Linked DNA regions of Homo sapiens. The protein of the gene in region 2 interacts with the protein of the main gene of each other region in a pairwise test. Each region holds a gene or a part of one and is shown on either strand. Other genes may lie near its edges. The genes, in order: RNMT, PLEKHA3, DOK3 and SH2B2.

Region 1 (7,247 bases), on a different chromosome or scaffold from region 2:
TAAGTAACTAAAAATATGACTAAGAGTTGATTAATCTGATCCTCTATCATTAAAGAGTACGTGTCTGGTGTTTTGGAAAATAAAGGCAGCATTTTGAATGTTAACTTTCAAAAATGAATTTTAAATAGCAGATATTTAAAATTCTAATATAAGACAACACAACACTTGTTCAGGATGAGAGAAAAAGCTAAGTAAGGATTAGAAAAACTAATTATTCATATTTTTTTTTGTAGCTTTCTCTTTCCATAGCTAGGTGTTTAACAGTAGACACGTAAGTAAATCAAAGTTGTTATGGAATGATAAAAGAGCCTGATTATCAAAGATGTCAGGCTTACCACCAAGAGAAATATAAAAACTAGAAAAAAAAAAAGCACTATGTCTTTTAGTTTTAGCATCATCAGTATTTGGTAGACCCCAGTCTACTAAATGACATTAACAGCCAACAGATAAAATCAGTAGGCAACCAAACATCAATAGGCAAATTGTTCAAACGTCGATTAAAAGCATATTAATATTCTCAGGCAAGTTAAGTATTCAACAGTTCTAAAACTTGATACAATACTGAATCCTAGATACATTCTCCTTGTCTTTATCACTGAGCTGGACACTTTCAGGTGTGTATTATTTTGATGGCTAAAAATATCCTGTACAAGTACTTTCACCTTCTGCAGGAACTTAAAGTAACTTCAACAGAAGCACAAATGTTCCATAATATTTAACTTTCTGCCATGAATCTTAATAGCATAAAAATACTGAAAGAGCGAAAAACAATTATAAAATCTCTGCATTTATATACAGTAAGACTAACGAGAGAGGAAATCATCAAGAAACAATTTCAAAAAAGCCTTTATCACATTCAAGAACTATACTCAACTGTTTACTTACCAAGCTACAAGCACCAAGAAAAAAGAGAAAATGAGTGACAAAGAATGAGTGTTGAGAAAGGAAACAGCCAGAGAGAAAGCTTGGCACAGATCACACTGATTGTATTAGGATGTTAAACACAGGTGCAAAGCACACATCAAGAGAGCTGCTAGAACAGCTGAAAAAGGAAAGAATACCCTGTATATGCCAAGAGACAATTTTGCCAACTCTGACTTCAGTCCTTTAAAAAAAAATACCTCTTTTCTGATTATAGAAATAATACATGTAACAATGTGGAAAATATGGACTCGAAAAAGTTATTCAATAAAAAAATACATGAATAAATAAGTATTCATAAAAAATCCAATAAGTTATCTGCATCATTGAGGGTAATGAAGGAAGAGAAAGGCTGAAAAGAAATTAGGACTGGGGTAGAGAGAGAACCTTGTGAGTAGAGACTGAAAATGCCATTACGTTAATCTTAAAAAAAAAAAAAAAAAGTGAACACTCATTTAGCCTAAGCTGACACATGGCAGAGTCAAATAAATATTTTTGTAACAGAACATGAATGTTAAAAACAAGTGATATACAAAATGTTAAAATGTGTTCAAAGTAAGCCTAGTTAGTTCCTACTGCTAATACTTATCAGATTAGGTAATTTATCTTTGAAAATTAGTAAATTATCATCAAAACTAGTAGGAAGTACCCATAATTAGCACTTTATTCTTTCTAGCATAATTAAGAAAGCATTCTCACTTCTTCTTTGACTGGCTTTAAAAAAATCTTTATTATGAAAAATTTTAAAACAAACCACTTTTTAAAGTTCTCTAAATTTATCTAAGAGTCTACTTAATGCACTAAATATACAGAGCAATAATTATATTCTTTTTTTTACCCTATCTTACGGTGCCGACAAGAATTGTATTCTGAATCATATTTTCTCTGTTCACTTTCATTTTAATTTCAAAGGTGAGTTTCCATAGATAAAATGTTGGCTCAAAAAAGTTGAATGTTTTTATCTATCCTCAATGTAATACACATGATCTTTATCAACTAATTGAAGGCCTAAACAAATCAAGACACTGCCTATTTCTTGACTTAATGAAACCTGAATGTTTAACCAACAATATGCAGTTGCTCCAAAACTATTAGAGTAAAATAGAATCATTACTTAATAGTACTAGGTAACCTTAATTCTGTGCATTAAAAAAAATATTGCCTTCTGAAAACCTGATTAACATAATAATTAAACACTCATTAAAATCTTACACAGTCAACCAAAAGTAAATATTAGAAGAATTTGTCTTCAAGACCTAGTCTTGGCTCTAGCTTTATAAAGTCAAGGTTTGATAATTAAATGAATAGGAATTAAAGACTCAGTAGCTTGGTGTTGGATCATACCAATGAGAACACTTTTCATCCAATTATTAAAGTTTCTTAGGTAAAAAATACGACTTTGACTACGCTTCTCCAAACCAACTTCCTGAAGTTCATTGTAATGGGCAGCCACTGTTGAGCTGTGTCCTTCTTCCAGATTCTGAAAATAAAAGAGAATAGAAAAAAATCAAGGATCAGAACATGGTAAAAATAAGCCTCAGAACATTTGACCTGTGAATGGATAAAATGCTATTAGAATTGGTAAACTTCACTAAACAATGGCAATTAACCACAGAAGTCTCACTAATTATCATTAGACCTAAGATTTGTTTTCTGTGTCCCTGTGTATCAGTCCATTTTAATGTTGCTGCTAAAGACGTACCGGAGACTGGGTAATTTATAAACAAAAAGAGGTTCAATGGACTCACAGTTCCTCGTGGCGGGGGAGGCCTCACAATCATGGTGGAAGGTGAAAGGCAGGTCTTACATGGCGGCAGGCAAGAGACAATGAGAGCCAAGTAAAAGGGGAAACCCCTTATAAAACCATCAGATCTCGTGAGACTTATTCACTACCATGAGAAAAGTATGGGGAACTGCGCCCATGATTCAATTATCTCACATCAGGTCCCTCCCACACATGTGGGAATTATGAGAGCTATAATTCAAGATGAGATCTGGGTAGGGACACACCCAAACCATATCACCTTATTTTGAAAAACATCTCTAGGTTTAAAATTTTCATTGTGATATTTCATCTGCATTAATTTTAGTGTCAATGTCTTAATAAACCCAGTACTCTTCCAGAGTTCTGATTTATTCAGTTCAATAAATGACAGTCAATGTTTGGTGTTTCTACAAAGGAATAAATTAGGAATAAGCTATAATTACATTATTATTATAAAGCTGTTGTGAAAATTAAATAAGATAATGTATATAAAGAGATTAGGCCTGGGTGAGGTGGCTCATACCTATAATCCCAGCACTGTGGGAGGCCCAGGTGGGAGGATCACTTGAAGTCAGGAGTTTGAGACCAGCCTGGCCAACATGGTGAAACCCTATCTCTACTAAAAATACAAAAATTAGCTGGGCATGGTGGTGCACACCTGTAATTCCAGCTACTCAGGAGGCTGAGGCAGGAGAATCGCTTGAACCCAGGAGGTGGAGGTTGCAGTGAGCCGAGATCGGGCCACCGCACTCCAGCATGGGCAACAGAGCGAGACTCTCAAAAAAAAAGAGAGATTAGAATTCAGTAGGCTATGTGCAGCGTTAGTGATTTCTATTATAATAATGCTATTATATATGTTACATGTAACCCAACAGTTTTCAATTTGTGCTTCCTGAGGCCCTAGAAATCCTGTAAAAATGCCATGATAGGTAAAGGGCTTCGGATCCTCCTACCTCCCTTTTCAGCCAAAGTGCTGAATCTCACTGATGTGCTGAAAGGCCTTTCAAACAAATCCTTGACCTATTTTACGTAACAGGTTTAAGTGTAAGATTTTCAGTTGAAAAAGGGGTTCTGGGGCTAGTAAAAGTTTGAAAACTATGTTTAAAATACAAGCTCCCAGCCAGGCGCAGTGGCTCATGCCTGTAATCCCAGCACTTTGGGAGGCTGAGGTGGGCAGATCACAAGGTCAGGAATTCAAGACCAGCCTGGCCAATATGGTGAAATCCCATCTGTACTAAAAAACACAAAAATTAGCCAGGCATGGTGGTGGGCACCTGTAGTCCCAGCTACTCGGGAGGCTGAGGCAGGAGAATCGCTTGAACCCGGGAGGTGGAGGTCCCGGGAGGTGGAGGTTGCAGTGAGCCGAGTTTACACCACTGCACTCTAGCCTAGGAGACAGAGTGAGACTCTGTCTCCAAAAAAAAAAAAAAAAAAAAGGGGGGGCTCCCCTCTGTTACAAGAATTCACATTCCATTGATGACAAAAGCCTCACTATCAGTCACTTTCCTCATAAGGGCCAATGGCAGAATTTTATTTACTCATTAAAGTAATCTTTTCCTCTAACTCCAGATTCTGCCTCAAATTCCTTTCTAATGTGGTACTTCCAGATGAAAACAACTTGCCCTATAATATCTTTGCTAAATATTAGGCATTTGCATTCACTTAACTAAAACAGTATGTAAAATACATTAATAAGAAGCTGAAAACTGTTTAAGGAATTACATTAATAAAGGGATGTAAAGCTAGGTATAATTTTAAAAGTTATCCCTTTAAGTGATAACCTCTGACAAAAAAACTAGAGCTGAACACCTAATAAAAAAGAAAAATAGGTAAATCATTTGGATCTCATACTCTAGTCTTTTTAAAAACGCCGGAGGACTGCTTATGCCCAGGAGGTTGTGGCTGCAGTGAGCTTTGATTACACCATCACACTCCAGCCTGGGCGACAGTGCAAGACTCTGTCTCGGAAAAAAAAGTTTCTAGTTAAATATTCTAAAATAAGATAAACATTATCTCATTAGAAAATAAAAACAAACAAAAACTAAAAAATCTATCTCATTAGCAGGAGATGTTTCACCTTAACAGAAATCATAAGAGTTAAAAGCCTACTTTGTCTTAGGACCATATCTATTAAAAATAGAACATTCTTAAGCTATTATGTAAAAACCAGTATGAATCCACGGGTGTTCCACATTTCAAACTTACATATTCTATTATGAATAAATGAAAATACACTGAACATACTTTCTGCTTTTCAGGAACATCCTCAAGTGCTATTTTTCTCTTATTTTGAGTGCCATCTCCAGTAGAAGATTTATCTTTTGGAACATCCTCAGTTTCTCTTTTTCTTTTCTTTGAATTGCCTTCAGCATCACCACAATCTTTTTCCTCTGGGACAATTTCAGGATCAAGTTTTCTCTTCTTGGATGGAGTGTCTTTCCCACAACTAGAACTTTCCTTTACAAGATCATCTTCAAACTCTTTTCTCTTTCTTGCTATGTCTACTTGCCTACAGACAGAAGTCTTTTCAGAAAGCCCAGTCCCAGAAGCTGTTGTGTTTTCATTAATATTGAATGAAGACTCTGTTTCAGAATTCACTGACGCTTTTGCCTGTTCAAGAGACATCTTTTCATATTCTTCTGCTTTTGCAGAATTTGCCATTTATGATTACTTGAATTGATGGTAAAACTTCATGAACCAACACTAGAATAGGAAAAAAATTGGTATTACTTGTAAACACTAAGACTTTAAAACAATTTTTTTTTTTTTTGAGACGGAGTTTCACTCTTGTCGCCCAGGCTGGAGTGCAATGGCATGATCTCGGCTCACTGCAAGCTCCGCCTCTGGGGTTCAAGTGATTCTCCCGCCTCAGCCTCCCCAGTAGCTGGGATTACAGGCACCTGCCACCACGCCTGGCTAATTTTTTGTATGTTTAGCTGAGACGCGATTTCCCCACGTTGGGCAGGCTGGTCTCTAACTCCTGACCCCAGGTGATCCGCCTGCCTTGGCCTCCCAAAGTGCTGGGATTACAGGCGTAAGCCACTGCGCCTGGCCTAAAATAATTTTAACTAGAATTTGATCAACTAGGAGTTTAAAAAAATCTCATTGTAGAGAGCATATTAAAAAATGTTAACTGATACTATGTATGAATTTCTGAATATGGCAGTACTAATTATAATCCCCCCAAAATTCTATAATCTTATTCATAAAAGTCACTGTTGGCATTAAAGCTGACAAATGAAGTGGCGATACACATGCACTAGTTCCATTTTGGTTCTGATCCTTACTCTATAACCCTGGTTCCCAAACTGCATGGTTGGCACCATAACAAACAGGCACCACAGAACCTAATGTGGAAGATATCACAGAAACTACCAGCTTTAAGTACAGCACAGTTCCAGCTGAATAGATTACACTACATACCTTTCAATGACTTTGTGAAGCTGAGATTTTGGTATCACAGAAAATCAAGGTGAAACAGGAAATGAGGTTGGTGGTGCCTATCTGATTTCGAGGCTTGAAGTTGTACAGTACCCAATAGGTTCACACATCCTGTTAGTAAGGGATTGTGATTAATCAAGAATAAAACAGAAACATTACCTTTCCCCCCAATTTATGTGTGTTAATTTTTTAAACAGACATAAAGTTGTTAGACCATAAATACTTTTAAATTCTTTGGGGTAAACTACTTAATAAATGGAACTGTTATATTTCTTTTGGCCTATGGACACTAAGGGCATCAAGAACAGAAAAAGTTTGGGATTCTACAGCAAGAATTCTGAAATCGTATTTCATAATGGGTGTTCCAATTAGGTAGAAAGTGAAGAGAGTAGAAATGGCTTTAGACAAGTTTCAGGACTCAGCCTGCAGTTTGATGACCATTAAGTCTCTTTCAAATATGTTTTTAGACCTACATTAAGATGGGAAAGCGAGAGAAATAACTGAACTATCTATTGGGCAAGAATTATGGTGGTTCATTTATTAAGCCATTCAACAAATTTAGTGACCTCCTACTATGGAGAAGCTCAATGTAAATCATGTTTTCAAGATGTTTATAGCTTATATACCACTATTAAAATGTTAAGCTTTCGCTGGGCACAGTGGCTCACACCTGTAATCCCACCACTTTGGGGGAACGAGGTGGGCAGACTGCTTGAGCTCTGGAGTTCGAGACCAGGTTGGGCAACATGGCAAAATCCCGTCTCTACAAAAAATAGCTGGGCATGGTGGCACATGCCTTAGTCCCAGTTACTCAGCAGGCTGAAGTAGGAGGATCACCTGAGCCCAGGAGGTCCAGGCTGCAGTGAGCCATGATTGTGCCACTGTACTCCAGCCTAGACAACAAAGTGAGACCCCACTTAAAAAAAAAAAGCTTTTTCATGAAGGAAGTGTTTGTGCTTAAAAAAAAAAGTAAATAAATAAAAAGCCTTTTGGATAATGAAAAAGAATAAGAAATCAAGTTGCTTAAAGGAATGGGTAACAAGTCACTCACTATGAATGGGTAAGGGTTTCAATGGTTATTAGTTTTCATGACCCACCATTTGAGGTAACAAAATACCAA
Region 2 (7,247 bases):
ACTGCAAGCTCCGCCTCCTGGGTTCATGCCATTCTCCTGCCTCAGCCTCCTGAGCAGATGGGACCACAGGCGCCTGCCACCATGCCCAGCTAATTTTTTGTATTTTTAGTAGAGACGGGGTTTCACCATGTTAGCCAGGATGGTCTCGATCTCCTGACCTCGTGATCTGCCCGCCTTAGTCTTCCAAAGTGTTGGGATTACAGGCGTGAGACACTGCGCCTGGCCCATTTTATGTATTTTTTAATACCATCTTACAGGACTGTGGTGTGGTGTTGAGTAAAACATAGTTTGACAATGTTGCTTTTTAGGACAATTGTAGATATGCTATAAACTGTTAATTAACAAGTATGTGTGAACAAAGAAACCAGTGTTTTGAGATGGATGTGTAGTGCTGTGTTCCTGAGGTTGATAGACAAAGGGTACACTTTTTTTTTTTAAGCTGTACTTTTTAGAGTCAAATGCAGTAAAACACCTCAGAGTTGCCTTGCTTCTGCATTGAACTTCTCAGGAAATCCCTTATGTTACAAATGCTCTGTAGTCCAGAGAAGTCAATGCGTATTTTACATATAAGAAACTAAAATAATTATTAGTTCTAGAGACAAATAGCATGGAAAGTAAGGTCAGACAATCTTCATGTTTTTTTTTTAAATAACATTGTTTATTTATTTATATGAAAAACTTACATTTATTTATATGAAAAATAAAGCTGAAAATTTGAGTATTCCAAAACAATTTAATCTGATCTTTGTAAGTGCTTTAATCTGATCTTTATAAGCACTTTATATAGTTAATCTCAATGAATTCATCTTAGAGTAAACTTGCATTTAACTTTATTTCAAGTTGTCATAAAAGTTCAGACAACCATCACTGGACCTACAGATTGAGTGATTATTATAGTGGGGATGTCCTTGGGTTAGTAAGCCTAAAGGAAGTAATTTCTGTTAAAGGAGATGTTAGTGGCCATTTGCATCTTAATGTCAATCTTATCAGATGTTCCCAGACTACAAACTGGGTGGGTCATATCTCTTAGCATTTCAACTGGTATTTCTCAGAGCAACTAGTGGCTCATGTTCCAAATATAGAAGGCATTTGCATAACATCAATGTTAGACCTGGGCTTGTTAGACTCTTGGGCTCATGTATACAAAAGCAACCACCCTAAACCTTTAGTATAATCTTTGTTTTTCTGCTACCATGTTAAACTTTGAAATAATCAGTTTTACTTGGCTGCCTCCCTTTATATTTTGATGGAGTAGTTGGATCTTCCAAATTATGTTTAGTATTTATCATATTTTTTAAATGTTCTGCTTAATTAGGTATTCTTTATTTTTTTAAATATATGTTTTGGAAATCCACTGAGACTTAGGGTTCTTCTTCTGAGTTCTTTAAAGTCTTGAATTATTAATGCTGTTTTCCATGAAAACCACACTTTAGAACATTTGTATATCAGCTACCTAAATAATTAATGATAAAGAGAAGCTTTGCTGCCAGACTCTACTACTGTCCTTTAAAAAAGAGATATTTATTAGAATATTTTGTGGCTTGCTAGATACTCCTTTTTTATCACATTTATATCTTATTTATAGTTATATACCCTGTTTTTTATATTTGTATACACACACATATATATGTATTATGTATAAAATTTGGTTTTCACTTTTGAAAAAAGAATCCAGCATGTTTTTGGTGTGTGTTGAAAAAGATTCCAATTAATGGTTATTAGGGAGAAAGCTTGATGTTGTACTAATTATGTTGCTTGAGTCTGTGAAAGATTAAATTTTTTTTTGCCAGTTATCTTTTTCTCTGAGTAAATTTATGTTTATTATGATAATAGTAAATTAGAGCTGCATGATTCTACTTGACATATGGATTATGCTAATTTTTTTTTTTTTTTCCAAAATTTCTAGATGAAGCGTTCTGTCAGCCACCCTGGTTCTTGCAGTTCAGAGAGGTAAAAGAACCTTTTCTTCTGACTAAGTTCTCTCAAATTATATCCATCTAGGGAAGTTCTTTGGGCCTTTAACAAGTGGTGTGGAATGTAAACTCTGTATGGGTTAGGTCTGGTTCAAAACCAGCATTTTATCTCTCAGTATTTATCTCCTAGTATTTAGTATAAGGGCCTGGCCTCAGTAGGTAGTCAGTAAAGAAAAAAATGAATGAATTAACCAGCAAGGTAAGCACGTTGCCAGCCATTTTACCTTTTTTAGATGTTTGAAATGCAGTCATATATTGAAGAATGACTTTTCCATCAATGATAGACTGCATATGTGACAGTGGCCTCATAAGATTATAATACCATATTTTTACTGTACTTTTTCCATGTTTAGGTATGTTTAGATACACAAATACCATTGTTACAGTCACCCACAACATTCAGTACAGTAACATGCAGTAGAAGTTTGTAGCCTAAGAACAATAGGCTATACCACATAGCCTACATGTGTAGTAGGCTATACTAGCTAGTTTTGTGTAAGCACGCTCTGTGATGTTTGCACAGTGACAGAATCACCTAGCGATGGATTTCTCAGAATGCATCCTTGTCATTAAGAGACGCATGACTGTATATCAAGTGATGGTTAGACAGAAGTACATTTTTGATGTGTTGAGACTCCACAGCTAGGGCTCATTTTACCTCAGCTGTTTATAGCATCATCTATTCATGCTGAGCTGTTGTTTCATTAAGAGAGAAAGATCTTGCTGAAGAGAGAAAACCACTTGATATTTTAAAGTACATATTCATATCAATACGTTTAAAAATTTTACCTTCTGGATAGATCTTACCAAAATGCTAAGTTGTTAAACTATTATTTTGTTAGGTAATAGTCCTTTAAGTTGCTATGGTTGTCTTATTTAGTTCTTTGGAAAGTGATTTAATTATAGTGACATTGGCATTTATTTCTCTATATTTGGACTGTTAAATGCTGTTTTGTCATGTTTTAATTTTTTCCCCTGATGATTGTATAATCTTTGATTAAACTGTCAAATACTCAGAGGAATCCAATGATGTATATATCCAACCTTGTCAGGGAATCAAGAGTCCCACCAACTGAATTTTCCAGAAAAATGGAAGCTTAATCAATTTTTGACCAACTTTTATTTTTATGAAAGAAATTTTTCTATCCTTTCTACCTCATAAAATAATAATTTTAAAATCTTATTTGTTTCCTGATGAATCAAGGTTGTCATTAAGTACAGTAAAGTTGGGCTGTTACAAAAATAGTAGCTGAGATGCTGTTAGGTGGTGGTGATTTGCTTCTCTGTTTAAATTTTTCAGACAGATTTTTAAAAGAGTTTTTCTAGGCCCCTTTTTGCCATCTTTATCTTCTCTTGCTGTTGTCAGTGAGTCTACCTCTAGCTCTATGAACTCCTTGCCCATCTCTTTCAGTCTGCTGGTTTTGATCAGATATGGATTGACTTAAAATACATGCATTCATGAAACCTATGACTTCTAGTTTTCAAACATTTGTAAACCGACTGATATGTCTGCTCTCTGGAGTCTCCCCTACAGAAGTCACTACTTCTTCATTGTACCCCTCTTCCTTTTAGTTCAGCTCAGAAGCCATATTCTCCAGGTTACCAGCTGTCTTCTAAATGGGTTCACTTGTTTTTGACTTCTGAGTAGAATGTTGCTAACACGGGACGTTGAGCATAAAAATAATTCTTTTTTCACTTAAAGAGAAGTCATTTAAAATTCCAGTTGAGTGTGTTTTTGTTTATGTAAGGCCTTACAATTTAATGCTTTTTACTTAATTTGCAGGAGTAGCCACTCTATAAAAGAACCAGTATCTACACTTCACCGACTCTCCCAGCGACGCCGAAGAACCTACTCAGATACAGATTCTTGTAGTGATATTCCTCTTGAAGACCCAGATAGTAAGTGACATAGATTCTGTCTCTTTCTTTGGCATATTCAGCAAAATTACTGTGGGGCTCTGTAATTTCTGGAAATGAAGTATACTGACTGAACATTGTACTTTGTTTCTTTGATTCCTTAATTCAGAGGTAAGCAAACAGCGCTCAATCAATGAAAGCTCATATATCCCCTTACAAACAGGTTTGTTACTAACTAAGGAGTGCTGAGGATTGCTTTGTAAATATCGTATCTCAGATATATATTTATAGAATATCATGATCTTTTACCACCACTAGGACTTAAAAAACATTTTAGAAGAAGGCATGAATTGTTAGCAGGATTCTAGGGGAAAATAAAGGCAAGTTCCAAGTTCATATAAAAGTCAGCATTGTTACTTTACTAAAATACCTAGAAATGGCTAAGGAAAAGAATTTTGTCTGGTAGTCACAGTGAATTATAGTAGCATTCATTCCTCTACCTTTTTCTTCCTTATTAAAGAGGCAGCATACTGTGATTGAATGTTTTTAGGAAAGGTTTTGTGATTTATGTTAAAATTTTTAAATTTTTCTCTTCAGAGAAGAAGCTTTGAAAGTGTGTCAGAATATCTAGTAAGATAGTAGTGACCATGATTTGCAGTGAACACAAATATAGTCTTATTATTACATCTCCATTAATAGACTTATACTCTCCAAGTCTCTACTATTTCTCAGGAAGCATGTGGGATAGAAACTATGTACAATTTCCAATTAAGGAACAGGTCGTGTTCCAATAGTTAGTTCATTTGTAAGTCAGTTGTTTGGAAAACAGATTTTATTTTTCTTGTGGAAATGACATGATAAGTGGTGGTTAGCTCTTTGGATAGCTAACCATTCTTTGGAAGAGCCCAGTGAATTCATAGTATGGCTGAAATGGGACAAAACAATGGTGTATTTCTAGCATTTGAGTGTATTGAAAACACTGATTAAGCTGGAGTTGTTTTATGTAACCAGAAAGTTAAACAGGTTTAGTTCATACATATGGCAATTTTAAAAAGGATTGCTGGTCATTTTTGGATTTTTAGGAGTTGATAGAATCTTTTTTTTTTTTTAATGCCCACTTTTTTTTTAAACTGAATTAATCATCTATTTATTAATATATGGCACTATTCTATGCTCATTAACATTTTGAATTTAAATTGAGATGTGGGTGGAGAAATGAAGGAAAGAAACCGGGAAGGGGAAGGGAGAAAGAAACTTTCTTGGGCCAATCAAGCAAGACCTGGAAGAGAAGAGGAGGAGAGGAGGAGGGTTAAAGAGGTTGAGTATGTGAAAAAAGTTATCTGAGGCAGGTAAGATAGACTCTGATTCTCTTTATTCTTTATGCCTTTTACACATGACTCTTAATCCAGAGTTCATGAAGGAGTTCTGTATGCTACCTTGTAGTTTTAAGTGCGACATCTTTTTTTTTTTTTAAGGGGATCATTTGTGATTACTAAAATAATTTTTTTAAAGCCATCCATTTTTCTTTAGAATTCTTTTCTTCTAGTTACTCTAGTCCTGAATATTTGAAAACAATTTTCAAAAGATCTAGGTGTACATGCTCTATTATATTTAGCATCCCCCAGTTTAACTGTTATGGACTGTAACAAAACTAGTCTCACACACACACACACGCACGCACACACACACACGCGCATACATATAGTTCACTTCTCTAGAACATCTTTAAATTAGCAAGTATAGACTAGGTCAGAAATTTTATCCTTAGATTTTTTCCTGTTTATACTAGTTTAGTGTTTCAATTAGCTGACAAAGCAAAGATTGAATTAGTGCTCTTTCCAGAAAGTATATATTTTGCAATTGGCAGTCTTAGTTGAAAGTTGTTACTCAAAAATATTCTTCTTGTGAGATGCAACTGCTTCTATTTTCTTTAACAAGCTTTTTCAAAAAGTATGAAAGTAATAAATGATGATGGTAAACTCAAACTATATATATAAAGGTACAACTGCCTTAGAACAGGACTATGCCAGTGTAGTCAGCTGTGTTAACATGGAGTTGCAGTGATAGTTCTGTGAGCTGCATTACAAATGGAGAAATGGGATCTTTCAGTATGAGGTACCTTGTCAGCTTTGCTCAGAAAGTCTTAGAATGAAAAGAGGAATACCTGAATTTAGTCCTCGTTCTGTTACCAATTGTGTGATCTTGGGTAAGGCATGTATCCTTTTATGGGTCTTGGTTTCTTTGCCTAGGAACAAGGAGGATATTAACAGCATTAAAATAGGCTGAAAAAGCAATAGTTAATTAATAAAGATTAAATTCAATTCAGCAAATATTTATTGACTACCTATTATGTGCCAACCATGATTCTAGCAGTGAACAAAACAAAAATCTCTACTTCAGGCAATTTCATCATTTATCTTATGAATTCTGATGTTTCTCCTTGTGGCTGTTGATACTCTAGTCTAAAAGTTAAGTTTTCCTGCATGAAACAAACAAGGAAATACAAAATTAGCCAGAAGCTAAAGGAATTTCATGTCCCTGAACAGGAAATTTAAAATGTTCTTTCACAGAGGACTGGAGTTAATATTGACAGGATGTTTAACGTTTTTATCAATGTCTTCATAGGACCTGTTCACTGTTCAAAAAATACACTTAATGGAGATTTGGCATCAGCAACCATTCCTGAAGAAAGCAGACTTATGGCCAAAAAACAATCTGAATCAGAAGATACTCTTCCATCCTTCTCTTCCTGAAGAAACTGAAGTGTCCAACTTCCTCTAAGTATTGCTATGCAAAAGCTGCTGTAATTAAACTATTGTTATAGGGAGTAGTTTTTTCCCTTAGGACTCTGCACTTTATAGAATGTTGTAAAACAGACAAACAAGAAAACAAACCACATACTTTTGAAGTGTATTTTATCTTTATATAGTTTGTTTGCAAGAGTATTTTCCTAATAACTTCACAGTATGAATGTGCATCTTTTTTTTTTGAACAAATGATGGTGTAACATTTTGACATCCATAAGGACAAATGTAGATATTTTTCTTAAAAACTCTGAGGGGACTGACAGCATGGTCAGGGTGTATTGTAGCTTATAAACATGAAATCTTATAAGGTTTCAGTTTGACAGAAGTGTGATATATGTAACTTGTGCCATGGACCAAATGGTCACTTTACCACAGCTAAAAATGAGTTACGATAGCAGCTTGATGGTGATTGTATTGTATTCCTTTAATCAAAAAGGAAACACAATATTCTAAGTATCTTTAGCCCAAATACCATGACATATTGAGCATCTTTAAATAACCAGACTGTATTGTCCTTCATATGTGAAGTTGACACTACTGATTTGTCAATACCAAATTTTGGGTTAAAGTGTTTAATTTTTATGTATTTATTTTCTTGTTGCCTCAAAAG
Region 3 (7,964 bases), on a different chromosome or scaffold from region 2:
CTTTACCTTAGCCACTCCACAGATCTTCACAGAGGGCTGCTGTGAGTGCGACCCTCAAGGAGCTCCCAGTCTAATGGGGAGGTTAGTTGGGGGAGGACAGAGGGATGTGGCCAGGTACTGTGGGAGCACGGCAGATGGAATGGCCCACCTTGCTGGGGACATCTGGGAGGTGGGAGCTCAGAGAAGGCTTTTCCGGGAAGGTGACATTTGAATTGGGAAGAGGGGCAGTCCAGGCTGAAAGCACAGAGGCGGACGGCCCAGGAAGGTCAGGGTCATTCAGTGGTCAGTCAAGGAGGTTGAGGCACTGGGGTAGGGCTGGATCCCAGCGGCACCTGTGTCCTTTCAGTGCTGTGCAGTCCTCTGCAGACCACCAGAGGCCCTGGACCAGGCCCTCTGTTCACAGATGGGCCAGACCCCATCCCGGAGGCCTTCCTCCACGGACTTCTGAGTATTAGGGAGATGGTGAGCACAGAAAAGGTGAAGCCAGTGGGCCAGGAAAGCGAGCCCAGAGTAAAGCCTCTGGAGCTTGATGACAGCGCTTCTGGGTGAGAGGCTGACCCAGGAGAAGGGGGAAGGCGCGCCAGGCCGAGCGGTGGTGAAGATGGCTGCAGTGCCTTGGGAAAGAGCTGTGTGCTATACATAGGGCAGGTGGTGGGAATGATGAGAAGGGGACAGACAAAGAAATAGGAAGGAGGACAGAGAGCAGAGCAGATGCAGGGTGCCTGCTTGCCTCTAGATAGGTGATAGGCCAGTGGCCCCAACCTCAGGGTCTCTCCTTGGTCCCCAGCGGTGTACACATGATGGTGGCCACCCCGGGGCGCCTCATGGATTTGCTGCAGAAGAAGATGGTCAGCCTAGACATCTGTCGCTACCTGGCCCTGGACGAGGCTGACCGCATGATCGACATGGGCTTCGAGGGTGACATCCGTACCATCTTCTCCTACTTCAAGGTGCCGCCCCCGCCCGGCCAGGGCACCCTGCACCGCCCCCCACTGCACGCCACATCAGACTGCAGGGACCCCATGCCCCTGGCCACCCCAACCCACTGCTCATACTTTGTGGGCTGTGTCTCAGTTGCTCAGCTTCCCCAGACCCCATGCCCCTCAGCCCAGCCCTGTGTGCCCTTGGTCGCAGCCCCCCTCTTCCTCAGGGCCAGCGACAGACCCTGCTCTTCAGTGCCACCATGCCGAAGAAGATTCAGAACTTTGCTAAGAGTGCCCTTGTAAAGCCTGTGACCATCAATGTGGGGCGCGCTGGGGCTGCCAGCCTGGATGTCATCCAGGTGGGCAGGTGCTCCTGATGGGCGGTCTCTCACCTGTGGGGGCTGGATCTGACAAGTCTCCCTGAAGCTGATTGGAGCCGGGGGTCCACCTTGTGGGAACCGGGGGTTTCATTCAAAGCCCCTGACGCTTAACCAGGGCCATTTTTAGGGCACCAGCCCTTGGCGGCCAGAGGCTTCTGGTCACCTCCTGGTCCAGATGACGGGCCATGGCAGGGCTGTGGCGGGTAAGCCTAATCTCAAGATCACCTGACCTGATCTTTGTGGTGGCAGGAGGTAGAATATGTGAAGGAGGAGGCCAAGATGGTGTACCTGCTCGAGTGCCTGCAGAAGACACCCCCGCCTGTGAGTGCAGCCAGGCCAGGCCGGGGCCAGAGTCCCCAGGACCAGGGAGGGCTTTGGAGGGGACAGAGTGCCAGGGGAGGTGCGGTGGGTGCCCAGGCAGTTAGCCCCTGACTGGAGTTGGTCTTTCCGGACAGGTACTCATCTTTGCAGAGAAGAAGGCAGACGTGGACGCCATCCACGAGTACCTGCTGCTCAAGGGGGTTGAGGCCGTAGCCATCCATGGGGGCAAAGGTCAGGGTGGTGCAAGCACTGGCTTGGACCCTGCTGCAGTAGCAGTGCTTTACCTAATGCCTTCCCCTGCCTGGTTGGCCTGCCACTCCCCTGTCCCATGGTGGCTCTGACAGTGTCTGCCTGACCCTCCCCAGACCAGGAGGAACGGACTAAGGCCATCGAGGCATTCCGGGAGGGCAAGAAGGATGTCCTAGTAGCCACAGACGTTGCCTCCAAGGGCCTGGACTTCCCTGCCATCCAGCACGTCATCAATTATGACATGCCAGAGGAGATTGAGAACTATGGTAAGAGCCTGGGGCCCAAGGGCATGGGTTAGGCCGGAAAAGGGCCAAGCCAGGCCCCTAGTGTCCAGCGATGGGCCAGAGACTCTGTCCTTCTCTCTGCAGTACACCGGATTGGCCGCACCGGGCGCTCGGGAAACACAGGCATCGCCACTACCTTCATCAACAAAGCGTGTGGTGAGTCTGTTACCAGCGCCACCTTAGCTGTTCCCTGGGTCCCCTGCCTGTGGCCACCCAGGTTCTGGCCACAGAGCCCAGGATGGGCCCTGATGCTTCCCCACTCCTCCCCCAGATGAGTCAGTGCTGATGGACCTCAAAGCGCTGCTGCTAGAAGCCAAGCAGAAGGTGCCGCCCGTGCTGCAGGTGCTGCATTGCGGGGATGAGTCCATGCTGGACATTGGAGGTGACTGCAGAGCGGGATCCCCGAGTCCCCAGCCGGCAGGTGGCAAGGAGGGGTGCTGGAAGTCAGAAACGTGAAACCGGTGGACCGAGGGTGCCTAACGGGGGGCCCGAAGTCCAGGGCATGGATCCTGGTCCTTGACTTGGCTGACCCCTGTCCCCATTCCCCCAGGAGAGCGCGGCTGTGCCTTCTGCGGGGGCCTGGGTCATCGGATCACTGACTGCCCCAAACTCGAGGCTATGCAGACCAAGCAGGTCAGCAACATCGGTCGCAAGGACTACCTGGCCCACAGCTCCATGGACTTCTGAGCCGACAGTCTTCCCTTCTCTCCAAGAGGCCTCAGTCCCCAAGACTGCCACCAGTCTACACATACAGCAGCCCCCTGGACAGAATCAGCATTTCAGCTCAGCTGGCCTGGGATGGGCCAGGCTGGTCCTGGCTGCCTGTTCCCTGTGCTCTTCAGAATTACTGTTTTTGTTTCCTTTTACCCCAGCTGCCATTAAAGCCCAAACCTCTAGCCCAGCCCTGGCCCTGCCTCTGTGTTTCACCTCATCCGCCCCCTGGTTCCTGGACAGACGTCACCTCTGACCTCTGGAGCCCCTCTGAGGCAAGGCCCCAGCATCTCCCACTAGCACTGCCAACACCTGGCCTGCTGGTACTTGGCTGTGGAAGGAGCCACCGAGCTGGTGCCCGCCTCTGGGGACTCTGGGTCTCTCCACTGGGTTGTCTGAATTTATGACTCAAGGAGGGACCACATTGGCGGGCCAAGGAGAAGTGCTTGGATTCTCTGGTCTCCCTGGCCAGCTGTCATAGCTCTCAGGCCCACTCTTCCTGTCAGGGCTGTGATGTTTCAGGGACTTCTCCTGAAGCCCCTTGGGAGGCTGCTTCTTGCCTCAGGACCCCCACCCACTGCCTGCCTGTGCCAGCCACCTGGAGGGAGCCCTCCATTCCGTTGACTGAGGAGGCAGCAGATGTCATAGAACTGCCATTTAGGCCACAAGCTCTCCCTAAGCCTGCTCTGTGCCCAGCTCTGCTGAGCTGTGAGGACCTAGATGGGCCAGGGAGATGGCTGCCTGGGAAGCCGTCAGGCGAGGGGAGAGAAAGACGCACACGCAGAAACGTGGACGGCAGTCACAAGACCGCTAGCAGATGAGGCAGGATCTCAGCATCTGGTGAGAGGTAGGCAGGGACGGCACAGGCGGCCACACTTCCTCTGAGCCAGGCACTTTGCATGTATGGCCACATGCTCATTCCAGTGAGACAGCGGTTGCTCAAGCCATATTTGTCACTTGATATGTGGCATTGGGCAAGTTACTTAATTTTTCTGAGCACCGATTTCCTCACTGTTGAAATGGCGATGAGAACGCAAAGGATGTGGCGTCTGAGGTGGACGGAGCTTAGGGCTGCTTGGGCCACAGTGGGCACAGAGCTGGGTGCCAGGAGGCCTTCAGGACATATTTCCTGGCCAAGTGCATTCCCAAATGGCATTCCTTATCCTCTTCCATGTTCTCTCCCAGAGGTGGTGCTGAATGACCTGAGGCTGTTCCAGAATAAAGGTATACACACAGCCCCGCTATTGGCATCTTGCTAGGCAAGCCAACAAAAGGCGCCCCCAGCAGGAAGCAAAGCTTTAAATGAACATGTGACCTCTCCGGGGCCCCCTGGGACCTGCCACCCACACTCACGTGGTTGGGGCCATTCAGGGCTGTGGGTCCCATGTGGACTGGATGCCCAGCGTGAGTGTATACCGTGAGGGCCTTTGAGCTCTCGGACAGCGTGGAGTGGTCAAGGGAGGCCTCCAGGAGGAAGAGGTGGCCAACCGCCCCAGGCAGCACAGTGGTGAGGGGGCCCTGGAGGGGCTGGCCTGGGGGAGATGCAGGCCAGAACACACAGGTCCCTGAGTGTTGGGCTGAGGAGCCTGGGCTGCACCCCAGGAAGGGGAGAGACAGGTTGGTCTTGGGTTGTGGAGAGTGCTGCATGGAGGCCCAGTGGGGCAGTGGCCCCTGGGGGGATGCCAAAGGCTGGTGATGTTCAGTGGCTCGTGAGGTGGAGAGGAGCAGGTGAACACGAGAGAGATTTCAGGGAGAAAGAAAAGCAGCAAGATGGGGTGAGGCGCTCAAACCAGGACGCCGAGTGGGAAAGCCAGGAGTTGGCTAGAGAAGGGTCCTGGGTGGAGGCAGGGCCAGGGAGTGTCAGGCCCAGGGTGCGCAGCTGCCCGGGGCGGGACGGGGGAGGGGCGGGAACTCATGACTCGGGGAGCCAGACTGCGATCAGACGCGCGTGCCCAGCTGAACCAGGTGCGTGAGAAGGCTGCCTTCAGGTGGCCGGGGGCTCCCTCCAGGTAGGTGTGGGCACCTTGGGCAGCCAGAACCCCAGGGAGGAAATACATGCTGCCCCCAGCCCCTGAGCTGAAGACAGGCTCCCCTCCCCCCGGCCTGCAGCTGTCTCTAGACGGAGGGACGGGAAGTGGCCAGAAGGGGAAGTGTGAGGAGTTCCCGTCCAGCCTGTCATCAGTCTCCCCAGGTCTTGAAGCGGCGGCCCTGCTCCTGGCCGTGACCATGGACCCTCTGGAGACCCCTATCAAGGATGGCATCCTCTACCAGCAGCATGTCAAGTTTGGCAAGGTGGGGACCCCTGGCTGCCAGGCAGCTGCCAAGGACCAACAGTGGGTGGAGAATGCAGCCTCTGCCCCTGCCTCGGACAGCCCAGGCAGACCTGGGAGACTTGGGAAGGGAGTCAGGGTGGAGGATCCCACCCAGGTATGGGGAGTGGAATGGAGTGCGGGTGTCAGCCTGAGACGGCAGGGGCTGAGCAGGCTCTGCCAGACCCTGCCTCCGGGAGAGATGGGAAATACAGGAGTGGGAGAGGGTCGAAGGCTCAAACCTCCCAGCAGGGAAGAGCTTCACAGCCTCTGACCCATGAAATAGTGCCACCGAGGGCCCTAAATAGGGTGAGGGGCTGAGCTGGAGGAGGCCTCAAGGGTGGAGCCCCTCCCTGCAGCGGCACTGTCCTGGGAGCAAGGAGGCAGGGGGTCACCTCTCCTCGGCAGCAGCCCCACACCCCCGCAGCTCAGCTGCAGCTGCTGCCCAGGCAGATAAACCGTCAGTTTCCTTTGCTCGAAGCTATTTGCATGTTTCCTTCCTTAACAGCTTGAGGCAGAGGCCTCCCTCCCACCCCAGCTCTTGGCCTGTGGCCCAAGTGCCCCTTTTTGGGGGTGAGAGGGAACCAATATAATGGCAGTGTCTGGTGGTCTGCCCGGCCACTGGATGCTTTACAAACATGACCCAGTAGCAGTCCCAGCTCGAGTTCTCATGGCCTTTTGAGAGACGACATTGATGCTTGTGGAGGTCACAGTTAGGAAAGAGCGGGCTGGGATTTGAACCCAGGGCTGACCAATCCCAAGCATAGCCAAGGCCTCCTTACCTGGCTCCCTGAGAAACTGGGGAGCAGAGGCCCGCTCCTGGCTGGGAGCGTTTGCCGAGCAGCTTGTGCTGAGCCAAGTGGCACGGACAATCTGCCACCCAAGGGTCTTCACCCTCCCGCTCCCCTCCCGCAGAAGTGCTGGCGGAAGGTGTGGGCTCTGCTGTATGCAGGAGGCCCATCAGGCGTGGCACGGCTGGAGAGCTGGGAGGTCCGGGATGGTGGCCTGGGAGCAGCGGGTGACAGGTCGGCAGGGCCTGGCCGGCGAGGGGAGCGACGGGTCATCCGCCTGGCTGACTGTGTGTCCGTGCTGCCGGCTGACGGCGAGAGCTGCCCCCGGGACACCGGTGCCTTCCTGCTCACCACCACCGAGCGAAGCCATCTACTGGCTGCTCAGCACCGCCAGGCCTGGATGGGCCCCATCTGCCAGCTGGCCTTCCCGGTGAGTGCGGCGAGCAGGGGGGCGATTGGGCTGGGGCACCTGCCCCCGACTTGTCCACCTCCACGCTCACATCCCATCACCCAGCAAGCTCCACCGAGCACCTACAAGCCTGGGAAAAGTAAATCTATAATGACTCTCAGAGGGCCGTGCGTGCCATGGAGAAAATGGACCGCCAGGGGAGCAGGAGGAAGTGAGGGAGCGACGGGCAGGGTGGCCAGGGAAGGCCTCTCAGAGGAGGGCCCTGAATGACAGGAACCCACTGGGCAAAGGTCTGAGGACAGGGGCAGCCTGGGGAGTTGTGAACAGAGGGAGTCCCGTGGGCAGAGGCCCCGAGGCCGGACAGTGTGGGGTGTTTAAGGGCAGAAAGAAGGCGACGTGGCTGGAAGGAAAGGAGTGCAGGAGGAAGCCAACTCACAGAGCTTAGGAGAGCGGCTGAAATGCCCTAGGCCATGTGTGTGGTTTTGTTCTGAGTGAGAGGCGAAGGCTTTGGAGGGTTTAAGCCGGACATGTTTGTAAAGCCCCAAAAGGTCTGTGATGGGTCAAAAGGAAGTGAGCCTGGGGGTTCTTCAAAGAGGTAAACAGAGTTACCATGTGGCCCACAGGTCCACTCCTAGGTGTGTGCCCAAGAGAACTTGAACAGGTGTTCAAACAAAACATGTACATGTGAGGCAGGAGGATCGCATGAGCCCCAGAGGTCGAGGCTGCAGTGAGCTGTAATCGTGCCACTTCACTCCAGCCCGGGAGACAGAGCAAGACCCTATCTTAAAAAAAAACCCACATGGACATGAACGTCCATAGCAGCACTACTCACAGCCACCAGAAGGTGGAAACAGCCTACATGGCCATCAGCTGACAAATGGATAAGCAAAACGTGGTCCGTCCGCAAGATGGAATACTACTCAGCCATAAAAACAAACAAACGCCTGGCACAGTAGCTCTTGCCTGTAATCTTAGCACTTTGGGAGGCTGAGGTAGGAGGATTGCTTGAGCCTAGGAATTCAAGATCAGCCTGGGCAACATAGTGAGACCCTGTCTCAAAAAAAAAAAAGAAAAGAAGAAAGAAAGAAATGTACAGACAAGGTAACTCCATTGGGATAGAAATCAGATGAGTGTTGGCAGGAGCTGGAGGAAGGGAGAAGTGGGGAGTGGCTGCTCATGGGTACAGGGCTTCCATGTGGGATGATGGAAAAGTTCTGGAACTAGACAGTGGCAACAGTGCACAGCCTTGTGAGTATACTAAAAAGCACTGGTGGCCGGGTGCGGTGGCTCAGGCCTATAATCCCAGCACTTTGGGAGGCCGAGGCGGGCGGATCACCTGAGGTCAGAAGTTCGAGACCAGCCTCAACATGGAGAAACCCCGTCTCTACTAAAAATACAGAAGTAGCTGGGCATGGTGGTGCATGCCTGTAATGCCAGCTACTCGGGAGGCTGAGGCAGGCAGAATTGCTTGAACCTGGGAGGCAGAGGTTGCGGTGAGCCGAGATCATGCCATTGCACTCCAGCCTGGGCAACGAGAGCAAAACTCCGTCTCAAAAAAAAAAAAAAAAAAAAGAAAAGAAAAAAAAG
Region 4 (7,333 bases), on a different chromosome or scaffold from region 2:
CATGGAGCGAGAGCATGGAGAGGGACTGTGCCACCTTCTGCGCCAAGAAGTGAGGACCCCCACTTGGGCCCCCCCTCAGCCCCACAGCGAGCTCCCAGCACCCCCGCAACACCCCCGAGTTCCTGCCTCATGTCCCCCACTCCTTAGCCCTCCATCACAGCCCCCCATTCTGGCCCTCCCCCTACCCCTACTCCCGGTATCCACTACCCCCTAGCCCCACCCCATCACATGGTACACACCCCCCTTCCCCAACACACACACTCGGCCTCAGCAAAGCTTCCCGTGTCCCCCAGGTTCGCTGACCACCTGCACAAGTTCCACGAGAATGACAACGGGGCTGCGGCTGGTGACTTGTGGCAGTGATACCCCGGGGCCTCCCCCGTGACAGTGACGGCTGCGCCTCCACCCCGACTGCTCAGTGCATCTAATCACTTAGACTCCCCTGAAGAATCCCCCATGGAAACTGCCCTTATCCGCTGTCCAGCAGCTGCCAGAGGCCCCAGGTCACCTCGGGTCCCCTTGAAAGAATGTCTCGGTCACATCAGGCCCGCTAGGTCCAGAGAGCGAGCCCCCAATGCCCGGCCAGGCTAAGCCGCAGAGACCCTCTCAGCCCCCACCTCAGGTTAGGGCTCTGCCCGCAGCCTGACCTCTAGCCCTGGTGGCAGAGGTCCCTCAGCTGCGAGGCTAATTGGGTGACCACCGATTCCAGCTGCGGTTAATCCAGCTTGGGCCTGTCTGCACTGCGATCCTCTTGGGCTCTCCTAGGATCCCCCCATGCCCCGTAAGAGGTGGAAGACGCTTCCTTCCAGGACAGCAGGCTTTGAGTCCAGCACCCCCAGCCTGCCTTTGCCACCAGCCCCACCCTGCAGAGTATATGAGGCTTGACAGAGTCTGCCCCCTCCCCCACTGCACCCCAAGAGAGAGAGCCCCAGCCAGCGGAACAGTTTCTATTACCCCCTCCCTGCCCCCAGACCCATGTGATTTCTGCTTTCTTCTTTAGCAAGATATTCTGGTTTCTAGATAAGGAAGAGTCTCTAATGAGCCCCCGAGCCCCAGTCTCTTCAGACTCATGGATTGGTATGAGGGGTCTGAACGTCTCCTAGCCAATCAGAACTGGCTGTGGACCACCCTAGCACGGCCACCTCTCAGGGCCACTGGCAGGCCTTCCTGAGTTAGATTTGTAGTTGCATATTTAGCTTTGCACATTTGAAATAAACCACGGTTGCAGCCACCCTGGTGCCCTGTGCTCTGGGACGCTGGAGGGACTGGAGGCTGGTGGGGATGCCTGCGGTGCCACCCCTGGGAGCTGGGGCTGGCCTCACAGCTGGGCACACAGAACATTCCTCCCCCTCTTCTCATCTCCAGGAATTCCATGAGTACATTCAGAGCTCTGCTGAAACCCAGATCCAGTGTCCGAGTGCTTTTGAGAGGACAAGTAGCACCATCAAAAAGGGAAACCCATTCCTTTATTCAAAAACCACCCGGGGCCAGGCGCGGTGGGTCACACCTGTAATCCCAGCGCTTTGGGAGGCCGAGGCAGGTGGATCACTTGAGGTCAGGAGTTCGTGACCAGCCTGGCCAACGTGGTGAAACCCCGTCTCTACCAAAAATACAAAAATTAGCTGGGCATGGTGGCGCATGCCTGTAATCCCAGCCACTCAGGAGGGTGAGGCAGGAGAATCGTTTGAACCCGGGAGGCGGAGGTTGCAGTGAGCTGAGATCGTGCCAGTGCACTCCAGCCTGGGAAACAGAGTGAGACTCCATCTCAAAAAAAAAAAAAAAACCACCTGTCGGGCTGTGGTTGGGTGTATGACGTGTCTTGGTCCACGTCAGTTCCTGGGGAATCTCTGCTTCCCTTTCTGTGCTCCCCTTTCCCATGGGCCCCCGCCTGCCAGGGGCTGCAAAGCCCGTGCCCATCAATCTCCCTGAGCACCAGCCTCGCATGGGAACCCCCCGAGACACAGGTTCTGGGCCACCTCACCTCCAGCCCAGCCTCAGATAGAGGAGCGCATTCTCTGGGTCTGGAGTGGGTGCATTAACTCATTGTCCAGCTGTCACAAGACTGGCTGCAAACCCAGGTCCCCCACTGCAGCCCACCAGGCCAGGGTCCCCTGTGCTACCTCTGTCTCCATTTTAGTTCTGAACAGTCTAAAGCATGTGTATCCAGGGGCCTTTCTTTGGGGTCCCCGTCCCAGCACCCCTCATCTCCCCCATGAGGACTTCTTCCAAGCCCCTCAAGCCTCCTGCCCTCAGGGACCCAGGATGGACCTTTCCTCCCTGACCTTCATTCCTATCCCCAGCGAGGCGACAGCTGCTCTTGGCCAACCACGCCCCCTCCACCCCCACAGCCACTTCCACATCTCCATCAGTTCCTCCTTGTGGGTCCGAGGCGCTCTGCCGCCGGCCCCTCCTCACTTCTTCCTCCCTGGGGATGGATCCAAGCTATTGTCCTGCCCATGGCTTCCCATCTCAGGACCCTCTCTGGCCGCTATCATCCCAGCAGTGGAGTTCAGCCCACTACTCTGAACCAGGTTAGTCCACCGCGGGTCAGGCTCTCCCCTCTCCCAGGAGGGTGGAGACCACAACCAGGCCATGTATGGAGCTTCCCTTTCTCCCACTCTCGGGCACCCCCTCCTCCCCCTTCCCGGCCTCATTCATAGGTGTCCTGGTTCCCAACCAGGCGTGCAGGCCTGTGTGCAGCTCCGATCGAGGGCTGGCCCACTGCCGAAGCTTTCATTAAAGTGTCTGCTGGCCTGGTCCTGCGGAGGGAACAGAGCCGAGATGTGGGGCAGGGAAGGGGTCTGCCTGTCTTCCGTGCCCCCGTGGAGGGCAGCACCGGGGTTTTGGGCAGCAGGTGAAGGCTCTGTCCCCTCCACCTTCAACTCTGGAAGCCCCACCTTTCCATCCCTAAGAAGGGTTTGATAAAAACCCTTGTCTGTAAATTAGAGATGGGAAATGGCTCTGGGAAAAGTCAGAGGTCAGTTTGGGCCCGGGAGGGCGACAGATGGAGGCAGCTCCGGCTGGCAAGGAGACCAGGACAGAACTGCCAGAGGTGGGGGCAGGGGACAAGGAGGGAGATGAGGGGAGAAGACACCCAGGGGTCCCCCCCTGCTATCTCCAGGAGCAAGACTACTCTCTTCTCTGAGCGGCCCTTTCCACACCTCTGCCCCCACCGAAGCCCTCCCTCCCCTCTCAGACCCCTTCCAGGCCTGCTGAGCCCCCTGCACCTCTTTCAGGAAGCCTCCCAGAGCCCCCGCGCTGTGCCCTCAGCACCAGGGGTCAGGCTACAAATGCCCCGCAAAGCCCAGCGGGACTGTTTCCTCAGCCCCACTGGTCTCTGCCCTAAAGCAGGCGAGTTCTGGAGCCAGGCAGGGGTGAGGAAGGTGCCAGGGTTGTGGCCCCTCATCGCCCCTCTATGATCTCTGACACCTCTCCGGGTGGCATCAGGCCCCCATCACAGCGAAGGCTGGGTGGTGGGGGCACTGCGCTCAGGGGGGCCGTCCCGCCCTGTGGCCCGGGGGCGATTTCCCGCACCGGAGGGCTGCAGGGAGGGGGCGTGGTGGCGCCCTCGAGATTTATGAGAACCAGGCGTCGACTTCCTCCGTTGCGACATCCAGGCCTCCTCCAGGCTCCCATTGTCCCTGCTGCGGAGAGTCTGGCCACAGCGGCGGCTCCCGCGAAGCACCCGTCAGCGAGGGGCGCTTCGAGGGCGTCCGCGTCCCATACACCCGCCACGCAGGACATTCCCCCGGCCCCACGCTCCGCGCTCCCGGGGCCACCACCACCGCGGGCTCGAGGGGTGGCCTCCACGAGGAGGAGTGGGAGTCCCGCGCCTGGCCTGGGGCCGGCTCGGCGACATGGGGACCCCCGCCCAGATGGGGCGACTCGGAGCCGGCTCCTAACCCCTCTCTCCGGGCCCCAGGACCGGGCAGTCTCGGCACCGCAGCTGCGGGGAGCCAGCAAGCACCGGCCACCGGCGCCGCTCGGGCTCCGCGGATGGCCGGGGGCGGGGCCTGAGCGGCGCAAGTGGGGGCGGGAGGGGGCGGGGCCAGGACGCGCGAGGGGGGGCGGGGCCGGGGCTCGCGGCGGGGGCGGGGGCGGGGCGGGGCCGGGAGGCGCGCGCCTCGCGGGCGGAGGGGCGCGCCGCGCTGGGGCTGGGCTTGGAGCGCGCGGAGCTCGGCTGCCAGAGAGCCGCGCGGGGGACGCGCCGGGACCGCGAGGAGCGCAGGAGCCTTCGAGGCGGTGAACGAGGGAGGGAGCCCAGTCCGCCGCGGGCCATGAGCCACCGGGCCCGGGGAGCCCGGCCGCGGTCCGGGCAGCGCTCAGCCGGCGCCCCAGCCCGCTCGGCCGCAGCTGCGCGCCTGTAGGTATGGCCTCCTTATACCCAGTTCCTCGCTCCCTGGTCCTTCCCCCGGGACCCCTGTCTGTCCCCGGGGACGTGCGCTGTGTGCGCACCGCTGCCCGAAGGAGAGCGGCCGCACGCGCCTTGGTCCGCGCGTGTCGTCTTTGTGTGCGCGGGTGGGAGGGAGGAGGGCGCGCGAGGGAGGGGAGGCGCCCCCGGCTGGGATCTGCTCCCCGATCCCCATCCCGGGCGGGGCGGGGAGCCGCTGGAGGGGCCGAGCCGCCTCTGGAGCAGCTGCGCCCCCGCCCCCTGCTAGGGCCCCGGCCGGGTAGTGGGGCGAGAGCAGCCGGGTCCTTAGAGGAGGGGTCTCTGGTTGGGGGAAGGGGTGCCCAGGTCTCTTCCCTACGCTGGGAGCGCTGGGAGGGGGCGTCAACCTAGAATGAGGGTGAGGGCCACGGGATGGGATCGGGGAGGACCTCCTCCAGGCCACAGGCACGCCCTCCCTTTGGCCCAGGCCCCCCTTTCTCGACCTGCCCAGCCGGGGAGCTCCCCGGAGCCCCCGATTGCCGGGAGGATCGTGGAGGGTGCCCAAGAGGCCGGCGCCTTTAAGAAGGGGCGGGTTCGTGCCCTCCATTCAGGCCCTTGGGCCTCGGCCATTGATGAACCTGCGGGCTGCGCGGGCCGGAACCGCGCCAGCCCAGCGGGCTGAAGCCGGGCAGAGGCAGGGACGCATCCTGGCCCCCTGCAGCCCCGAAGTGGGGGCCTTCAGGGAGGGAAGTCTGCAGTGACTGGAGCCTCTCAGGAGCCACGCAAGGCAGACCGGGCAGCCCCAGGCGAGACTCTGAACACGAATAAGCCAGGATCTACGTGCACTTCGAGCTAGTGCAAGGGAGAGCCTCAGGCTAGGCTGTCAGACCTGGGTGGAGCCCTACCAATGCCCCCGAGCCAACATCACCTACCCTGTAAAATGGGATGGTGCTGCCTGCCTCCTGGCTAAGGGACCGGCAACTCCCGGCAGGAATTGCGTCCCAGAGTCAGGTCCCTGGAGCTCCTCTGGGAGGACTGGGGGCAGGGGGTGTGGTTTCCCCAAGAGGTTTTGACTGCCTCTTGAGCTGAAGCCCCCACTACTGTGTCCCACCTTGAACTCTCCCAACCTCTTCCCTCCTGGCCTCCCCACTCCACGCAGGAAGAGGTTGGGAGAGTGACCTAGAACTTTTCAGCTCCAGGAGCTTTGGGAGAGGTCTGGTGGTGGCGGTGGTGGCACTTCTTTTAGGCTAGTGTGGATCAGGGCATTTTTGGGGGTCTCAGAGACAGTTTCCCACCAGCTACTTCCTTAGAGGTCTGTCCTACCAACATACAAGAACAGCCCCACCCCGTGGCAGGCCGGCTTCTGATGCTGCTTGGTTGAATGCTTCTAGGTAATCAAGGGTTAATGCACACGCTTTTCTTTTTACCCTTGTTGTGAAAAATCTGTCTGAAGTTTCTAAATCCCTCTTCCCTACTTAGCGTGAATCTCCTAGGGAGGACTTCTATACAAATACCCAGGGGTGGGCTTCCCTTGGGGGTCTTGGAAGTGGGATCTCCACCCAAGTGATCCTGGGCCTCCCAGGGCTGAGCTTTTGGTTTCAAACTTACTTGTGCCAAGCTAAGGGCATCAGGATCGCCGTTCGTGTCATCTTTACAACAATCCTGTGGGTTTAGTGCTATTATTATCCCCACACACTTAGGGAGGGGAAGTGACTGGCCCAAAGTCCCGCAGTCAACGAGCCAGGCCTCCCAACCACTCCTCTCTGACAAGAGGCTGGCACTTCTTGCCCTGCCTACCCAGCCTGGGTTGCAAGGAATTGGGGGTTTAGGGGCTTCAGGCCTCCTGGCTGCTGTCTTCCCGGGGCTACGCTCATTCTTACTGTCCAAGTGAGGCCAGGGGACTGGTCAGAGCCCTGGGGCCTGGGGAGGTTTCTCTTCCCTGCTCACCTGGCTGGGTGCCGTTTTATGGCTATGCTCTGTCTAGGGGGATAGCAGGTGTGACCCCTCAACACGAGGTCACAGCCCACACCTGTTTGGGCAGAGCAAGGCAGGGCATCGCTGTGTGGGCGTGCAGCATCTTTTGGTTCCTCTGGGTGAAGCAGGGTTTGGGCCCCATTCTCCACATACTTCCGGGCCATCTGAGGGTAGCGCCCACCTGGGGGGTGGGGAGGACAACCAGCCAGGAGCTCACGGTTCGGTGGAAGAGACAGGCCACAGCCATGTGGTGTGGTGGAGGGGCAGGGGGCAAGGGTGGAGGTGGGAAGAGGATCAAGGGGCGTTCCCGAGGCCTCTGTGGGCTTGGGGGCCTGCCTGCTATTGGGGCAGAACAGGGGAAGTAGGCAGTGCCCAGCTGGGTGCTGAGGCTCTGTGCAGAGGACAGGCAGGAGTTGGAGGAAGAGGATGTATTTGAACTTGGATGTGGTGAGTTTGAGGTACCTGGAGATCAGCCAGGCTGGGAGTTGAGCTCAGAGAAAGGCCCAGGGAAGCTTTATTAGCACCTGTAGTCTCCAGAGTTCGGGGATGCTCAGATCTTAGGGGTGCCACCAGAGGTCTCAGGAGGCACTGGTATGAGTGTCCTGGAAAAGCCAGAAGGCAGCTGGGTGGGATGAGTTGGTGAGGGGCACTAAGGGGGTATCCTGCAGGTTTAGGGGGCTGGGCCAGGGCCCATGTGAGAGTTATGACACTGGGGGAGTGGAAGGGGCTGAGTGTCTCAGGCCAAGGCTGGAGATGGGAGGGGGGAACCTCTGCTCTGCAACCCCAGAAAGGCAGGGTGGGGTGGGAGTAACCAGGGCCAGTGCAGCTGGAACCAGCTCAGCCTGTCCTCCACCTGCAGAGCCCATCCAGGAACTGTCCAGCACTGGGTGCTCCTGAAGGAGGCTGAGTCTGCCTCTTGAGCCCACAGGCCCTGGCTTAGCTTGTTGTCCTGGCCCCCACTCCCTGCTTATCTGACCCGCACTTCCTGCA

Evidence for each region.
Region 1: the proteins of PLEKHA3 (region 2) and RNMT interact in binary tests that used the Homo sapiens proteins (3 or more experiments, as listed by UniProt).
Region 3: the proteins of PLEKHA3 (region 2) and DOK3 interact in binary tests that used the Homo sapiens proteins (3 or more experiments, as listed by UniProt).
Region 4: the proteins of PLEKHA3 (region 2) and SH2B2 interact in binary tests that used the Homo sapiens proteins (3 or more experiments, as listed by UniProt).

Annotation. Positions count from the first base shown.
Region 1 is NC_000018.10:13,729,618-13,736,864, reverse strand, and holds part of RNMT (mRNA cap guanine-N(7) methyltransferase), read right to left. Parts: intron 6,239-7,247; 5' UTR 6,110-6,238; intron 5,390-6,109; 5' UTR 5,348-5,389; coding exon 4,931-5,347; intron 2,402-4,930; coding exon 2,266-2,401; intron 1-2,265. UniProt on the Homo sapiens protein: Catalytic subunit of the mRNA-capping methyltransferase RNMT:RAMAC complex that methylates the N7 position of the added guanosine to the 5'-cap structure of mRNAs. Binds RNA containing 5'-terminal GpppC.
Region 2 is NC_000002.12:178,497,305-178,504,551, forward strand, and holds part of PLEKHA3 (pleckstrin homology domain-containing family A member 3), read left to right. Parts: intron 1-1,906; coding exon 1,907-1,950; intron 1,951-3,756; coding exon 3,757-3,872; intron 3,873-6,455; coding exon 6,456-6,583; 3' UTR 6,584-7,247. UniProt on the Homo sapiens protein: Plays a role in regulation of vesicular cargo transport from the trans-Golgi network (TGN) to the plasma membrane.
Region 3 is NC_000005.10:177,506,671-177,514,634, reverse strand, and holds the start of DOK3 (docking protein 3), read left to right. Parts: upstream 1-4,808; 5' UTR 4,809-4,877; intron 4,878-4,977; 5' UTR 4,978-5,094; coding exon 5,095-5,160; intron 5,161-6,092; coding exon 6,093-6,398; intron 6,399-7,964. Other genes in the region: probable ATP-dependent RNA helicase DDX41, read left to right, coding at 788-950, 1,151-1,282, 1,553-1,624, 1,759-1,855, 1,990-2,139, 2,242-2,313, 2,429-2,539, 2,708-2,844. UniProt on the Homo sapiens protein: DOK proteins are enzymatically inert adaptor or scaffolding proteins. They provide a docking platform for the assembly of multimolecular signaling complexes. DOK3 is a negative regulator of JNK signaling in B-cells through interaction with INPP5D/SHIP1.
Region 4 is NC_000007.14:102,282,728-102,290,060, forward strand, and holds the start of SH2B2 (SH2B adapter protein 2), read left to right. Parts: upstream 1-4,140; 5' UTR 4,141-4,367; intron 4,368-4,933; exon of another isoform or gene 4,934-5,750; coding exon of another isoform or gene 5,751-5,760; intron 5,761-6,738; exon of another isoform or gene 6,739-6,790; intron 6,791-7,333. UniProt on the Homo sapiens protein: Adapter protein for several members of the tyrosine kinase receptor family. Involved in multiple signaling pathways. May be involved in coupling from immunoreceptor to Ras signaling. Acts as a negative regulator of cytokine signaling in collaboration with CBL.